Homo sapiens: one gene and its partner. The protein of the gene in region 1 interacts with the protein of each later gene in a pairwise test. Each region holds a gene or a part of one and is shown in the gene's direction. Other genes may lie near its edges.

Region 1 (3,500 bases):
ATGAATTGATTGATTTGGCAGAGGCGGAGACCAGAATCATTCAATCTCACACTTATTTCTCTTTCTATAATGAGTTCACAAAAAGCTAACTGTAATCTGACTTTCATTATGCCTTTCAAGTCTAAATCCACTTTGATAAGACTTGCCCTTTTATACTCCCTTAGGAATCCTTTTTAGGCCAATTTGGCACATCAGGGCAGCGTCTAAAATTACATTTAATAATATGTCAAATGTTAGATCTTATGATTTTGTTCTATTCTTTTTTTTTGATGTGTATTTAGCTATTTTGGTAAGTATTCTTCTTCTCTAAAATTGTCCAAATCTTTCCTAAATACTCTTTATAAATTGCTTTGCTTGCATCTGGTGATATCGTTTGCCTTCTAAAAATTTTAATGAATCTTGGAACAGAATGCTCTACTTAAAACTCAAAATGTGTCCTTTTTAATTCTACATTTTGTCATGTTTAGAGTTAGATGTCTTTAGGGTTGTTATGCACACAGTATGTGTCTTGGCTTTTTCTTTATGCATCTTAAATATTATGCATTATTAAACATGGTGACATAAAAAAAATTATACTATTTGTAGAACATTCTAGACAGCTCAAATTCCAGCTGCACCATAGACTGAATTACTTACACTTTGTATGCCTCTGTTTCCTCATCTGTATGTGAATAAAACAGTATCAACTCTTTGGGTCTCAGTAAGAATTAACTGAAATACACCAGGTAAAGTGCTTATTTTATCTTATTTTATTTTTTATTTGAGATGGAGTCTTGCTCTGTCGCCCAGGTCAGAGTGCAGTGGCATGATCTCGGCTCACTGCAACCTTCACCTCCCTGGTTCAAGCAATTCTCCTACCTCAGCCTCCTGAGTAGCTGGGGTTACAGGCATGCGCCACCACGCCCAGCTAATTTTTGTATTTTTTTGGTAGAGATAGGGTTTCAACATATTGGCCAGGCTGGTCTCAAACTCCTGACCTCAAGTGATCCACCTGCCTCGGCCTCCCAAAGTGCTGGGATTACAGGCATGAGCCACCATGCCCGGACAGGTAAAGTGCTTAGAACAGGGCCTAACATATGGAAAGATTTCAAGCATTTTCCTCCTAAAGCAGTAAACTCAGAAATCTTGTCTGGCACAAGGTATTAAATGCCTCATATTTCACATAAACTGATGGCATTTCCCTCAACATAAGGGATGTAACAACCACTGCTCACCTCCTCACTAGTGTAATATTTATAATACACGCCAAGAAAGCTGCTATGATAGTCATAACCATCATTCCCACCACTATATTTCCTTCTTTTACTTGTGGTGATACATCTTCGCTTTCACCCATAGAAGCTCAGATCAAATAAAAGGTCTATACTCCATGACCTCTGTTGTGTTCTTACTGAAATGAGCCATGTCCAATTCGGGGGTCTGTAGTTGTCAGCATAAGGTGATAACGGTTGGGTTGTTTCTTCACTGTTCTTGTGGGGACATGGCCTTTCCCACTTAGATGAAAGAGTTACCCTACAGAGTTGAACAATATCTATGTCTGTCTCCAAGGGTTATAAGTCTTGGGTTTGTGGGACTTTACAATTTCTCTCCCTGGCCAGGCGTGGTGGCTCATGCCTATAATCCCAGCACTTTGGGAGGCTGAGGTGGGAGGATCACCTGAGGTCGGGAGTTTGAGACCAGCCTGACCAACATGGAAAAACCCCATCTCTACTAAAAATACAAAATTAGCAGGGCATGGTGGCGCATGCCTGTAATCCCAGCTACTCAGGAGGCTGAGGCAGGAGAATCACTTGAACCTGGGAGAACGGAGGTTGTGGTGAGCCAAGATCGCGCCATTGCACTCCAACCTGGGCAACAAGAGTGAAACTCCGTCTCAAAAAAAAAAAAAAGAAGATTTCTCTCTCTTATCAGGGGTGCTTTTTGGTGGATAGGGTCTTCCTCAGTCTGCGCTTTCCTGAGATGACCACATAAAGAACTCTCCATGACCACATATGGATGTGGTGGGTGATTGATTGAGTGTCACTGTGTTTATTGCGGTGGAATTTTATTTTTATGACCCCACCTGGCGTCAGGACTCTTCTTCCTCTATTTTTAAAAAGTCACCCAATGTGAGGTCCAGCAACAGTTTGGAGCAAGGCCTTTAAGAAATTTATCCTATAACCCTATAGCCACATAAATAAGTGATACAAGATCAGGTACAATGGCTCATGCCTGTAATCCCAGCATTTTGGGAGGCCAAGGCCAGAGAATTGCTTAAGCCCAGGGGTTTGAGACCAGCCCAAGCAACATGGTGAAACAGCATGAAAAAATACAAAAATTATCTGGATGTGGTGGTGTACACCTGTAGTCCCAGCTACTTGGGAGGCTGAAGCAGGAGATTCACTTGAGCCCAGGAGGCTGCAATGAGCCATGATCATGCCACTGCACTCCTGCCTGGGTGGCAGAGTGAGACTCTGTCTCAAAATAATAATAACAATAATAACTGATTCAAGATCCCCAAAAAAGACACAGTAAAGGAGGAAACTGTTAACAATTCAAATTGCTTTTGCAATAATTTCTTTTTGACCTATGCTAAAATTTTAAGCTCCTTCAATCTGAGTAAATCTTCCCCTGCAAAACACACCCCATTTGATTCTTTAAAACATGGTAAGAGTAGTGAGGAAGGCAAGTCCTCAGATCTTAGCAATTTTCCCCCAGCCCCATGTTAACAATGAGAAGCTATTTGTTGCTATGTAATAAGGACCATATTTTAATCCTCTTCCTGTGTGAAATGACATCCTGAGATGAAACTTGCATAATTAGAAGGACAAAAGAATGAATTGACTAGGGGAGGAAAAAAAACCCTGTAGATTCAGGGAAATTCCAAAGGTTGAATAATGAGTCATTGAATATTTACATGATCAAGGTACAATTAGACTTCATCTATTCAGAACATTAGAGTACAGTACAGTCTTTGGCAACATTCGACCATAGTAAATAAATATGGATTAAATTGATTGAATCATTCTGAATAGCTGGATTCTCTGCACAGCTAAAGGTTAATTTTGTTATATAACCTCAGAGCCTTATTTTTTCCACCAGTTTGAATAGAAACATTCTTAAAATGTAATATATTACTCCTTGCTTTAAAAAATAAAGTACAGTGGATATAATTTGTCTTAAATTATAGATATCAGTTATTAGTAGCATGTGACACCCTGAGGGCCCAAATTATTTGCTCTTTTGAAAAATGGACTCATATTGATTTGTATTTTGAATTTCTTTCCAATTTTTCTTAGCTTTCCTACTTTATCCCTCCTAGAAGTGTGCTGTCTTCTTTAGTACTCTTGTCAGTCAGCATATGAAACTGTTCCCCTCACTCCCCTTTGTCCTTTATTATAGACGCCATTCCAGGTAATTAATCTGGCTGAGTAGAGTTTAGCACCACCTAAGGCACAACATTTAAGAAGGCACTGACTTTCTGGGTCACCAAAATGCAGGTTCAGCCCCTTAAGTGACCT
Region 2 (3,452 bases), on another chromosome or scaffold:
AAACAAAAAAACATGTAAACCATATTTGTTTAGCTTGCGGGAGGGAGGCTGAATTTGGCCTGTGGCTGTAGTTTGTTGAACCTTGAACCTTGCAGTGGATGAGCACTGAGGAGTGAGACTGAGTTTTTGACTTGGTGCATCTGGCAGCACTGCATGGAGGAGGTGGAACTAGAACTGGTCCCTGATGGGTCGGGATGTAGTCGTAGTGGCAAACTTGTGTAATCTTCACTTTGTGCTTTTCATGTACTGACTCACTGAATGCAATATCCCCAGACGCTAGGTAGTTTTATTACCCTAGTTCCATATGTGAGGGAACAGAGGCACGAGGCTCACTAGCTCATCTGACGTCCTGTGTGCATATGGGGACAGAATGGAAACCTGGCATTTAACCTCAGAGTCCACACTTGCAACCACGGCTCTTTGGTATGGGTGGGGGTGCAAGGAAGCAGCAAGGTTTCTGTAGATGATGAATTGCCGGTGGGATAGGTGGGTTGGGGCTGGGGTTGGGCAGGAGAGGGCAATGCCTCGATGCAGGCTTTATTTTATGTTCACTCCAGGGAGGAGGTTTTTAGAGGATGTCACGACTAGGGTTGAGTGTCAGTTAATCTACCTGTCTCTGCTCTGAAGAGTGCTTTCTGTCATGGATTGACATTATTTAATGGCCAGCATGGTAGACTTAGATGGTAGGGTTGTAATTTCTAACGTGAGCCCTGACACTAATTTAGTAGACGGTAGTCAAAAGGTGTGTTGGGATGTGTGTGTGTCCATGTGCACACACGTGTGTAATTGGAGTAATTGATTTTCATTTATTTTTATTTTTTTTGAGACAGAATCTCACTCTGTTGCCCAGGCTGCAGTGCAGTGGTTTGATCACGGATCACTGCAGCCTCAGCCTCCTGGGCTCAAGCCATCCTCCCACCTCAGCCTCCTGAGTATCTGGAACTACAGTTGTGCACCACCGCGCCTGGCTAATTTTTGTATTTTTTGCAGAGATAAGGTTTGGCCATGTTGCCTAGGCTGATCTTGAATTCCTGGACTCAAGTAGTCTGCCCACCTTGGCCTCCCAAAGTGCTAGGATTACAGGCATGAGCCACTGAGCTGGGCTGGAGTAATTGAATTTTATTTTCTTATTTTTCTTTTTCTTTTTTTTTTTTAGAGTCAGGGTATTGCTATGTTGGCCAGGTTGGTCTTGAACTCTTGGCCTCAGGCAGTCCTCCTGCCGCGGTCTCCCAAGGTGCTAGGATTACAGGTGTGAGCCACTGCACCCAGATGGAGTAATTGAATTTTAAACTCTGGGCATATACTGAACCTGTGCACTACTTTGTTTCATTTGTGAGCTCAATTATAGAAAAACCAAAGTTGTTCACAAGGGAATCTTTCACAAGCTATCTCTTTATTTGCTCTTTCTCTATTTAGGAGCAGATGGAAAAGTTGAAGCAAAAGGCATCAAAGGTGATCAAGGCTCAAGAGGATCCCCAGGAAAACATGGCCCCAAGGGGCTTGCAGGGCCCATGGGAGAGAAGGGCCTCCGAGGAGAGACTGGGCCTCAGGGGCAGAAGGGGAATAAGGGTGACGTGGGTCCCACTGGTCCTGAGGGGCCAAGGGGCAACATTGGGCCTTTGGGCCCAACTGGTTTACCGGGCCCCATGGGCCCTATTGGAAAGCCTGGTCCCAAAGGAGAAGCTGGACCCACGGGGCCCCAGGGTGAGCCAGGAGTCCGGGGAATAAGAGGCTGGAAAGGAGATCGAGGAGAGAAAGGGAAAATCGGTGAGACTCTAGTCTTGCCAAAAAGTGCTTTCACTGTGGGGCTCACGGTGCTGAGCAAGTTTCCTTCTTCAGATATGCCCATTAAATTTGATAAGATCCTGTATAACGAATTCAACCATTATGATACAGCAGCGGGGAAATTCACGTGCCACATTGCTGGGGTCTATTACTTCACCTACCACATCACTGTTTTCTCCAGAAATGTTCAGGTGTCTTTGGTCAAAAATGGAGTAAAAATACTGCACACCAAAGATGCTTACATGAGCTCTGAGGACCAGGCCTCTGGCGGCATTGTCCTGCAGCTGAAGCTCGGGGATGAGGTGTGGCTGCAGGTGACAGGAGGAGAGAGGTTCAATGGCTTGTTTGCTGATGAGGACGATGACACAACTTTCACAGGGTTCCTTCTGTTCAGCAGCCCGTGACAGAGGAGAGTTTAAAAATCCGCCACACCATCCATCAGAATCAGCTTGGGATGAACTTATTCAGATGGTTTTACTTTATTAATTCCTCCAATTATTACAATAATCATAAAAAGGTGAAAATGGAAAAGTTATTCCCAAAACTGATTCTGTGTAACTTACTATTTTTCCAGGAGTAAATATTTAAAATAGCTGCATGGTTTATTCTAATTTATTTCACATTTCTTATTCCTATTATCTGAAGAATCCCTCGTCTGTGCGTTTCTTGTGGGAAGAGTGTTTTAATATCATTTTAGTGCTCTGAGGAGTCATATGAAGATGTATCCCTCATCTGTGTTTCTGAGGACATTAAGGGGAAATTAGAGGGAAATGTTTATTCAATTTAGTACTAGCAACAGCTTTAAGCTGGTGATGCTGTCATACTCCAGAAAGCTGTAGACACTGCTCATTTTGTCTTTTAAAAAAATTTTATTTTATTTTAAGTTCTGGGATACATATGCAAAACATGCATGTTTGTTACATAGGTAAACATGTGCTGTGGTGGTTTGCTGTATCTATCAACCCATCACCTAGGTATTAAGCCCTGCATGCATTAGCTATTTGTCCTGGTGCTCTCCCTCCCACTTTGCTCATTTTCTAACCTAGGTTTTAATCACCATTTTACCCAACAAATCATTGTTCGATCATTATTTGCCAGACTTGAATCTCTATGTGTTTTCTAGGACTGCTCTAATAAAGTACACAAACTGGGAGTCTTTAAACAACAGAAATGGACTTTCTCACAGTTCTGTAGGCTGGAAGTTTGAGATCACCGTAGCAGCAGGGCCATTCTCCCTCCAAAGGGGATACAGGAGGATGCAGCCTTGCTGCTTCCAGCTTCTGGCAGCTGGTGGCAGCATCACTCCAGTCCCCGCCTCCATCTTCAGGTGGCTGTCCTCCTTCTGTATCAGCCAAATTTTCCTCTTCTTACAAGGACAGCTTCCCTAATCTACTATGACCCATCTTAATCATATCTGCAGCTCCTTATTTTCAAATAAGGTCACATGTACAGGTTAGGACTTCAGCATCTCTTTTGGGAGACACAGTTCAACACAAAACAATCTGCCCTCTGATTCCCAAAGTTGATTTCCTTCACCTGTGCAAAATACATTTTCGCCCCATCTCAACATTTCCAAAAGTCTTAACACTTTCCGCGTCGAGCTTTCCTGAGCCCCTCTGGTGCAGCCACCTGCCTGTCCCATACACCCCGCCCACCATGGAGTCCAG

Evidence for each region.
Region 2: the proteins of MYBPC1 (region 1) and C1QTNF9 interact in a two-hybrid assay, tested with the Homo sapiens proteins (one large-scale study listed by BioGRID and IntAct).

Annotation. Positions count from the first base shown.
Region 1 is NC_000012.12:101,601,471-101,604,970, forward strand, and holds part of MYBPC1 (myosin-binding protein C, slow-type), read left to right. Parts: intron 1-3,500. UniProt on the Homo sapiens protein: Thick filament-associated protein located in the crossbridge region of vertebrate striated muscle a bands. Slow skeletal protein that binds to both myosin and actin.
Region 2 is NC_000013.11:24,319,580-24,323,031, forward strand, and holds the end of C1QTNF9 (complement C1q and tumor necrosis factor-related protein 9A precursor), read left to right. Parts: intron 1-1,416; coding exon 1,417-2,189; 3' UTR 2,190-2,952; downstream 2,953-3,452. UniProt on the Homo sapiens protein: Probable adipokine. Activates AMPK, AKT, and p44/42 MAPK signaling pathways.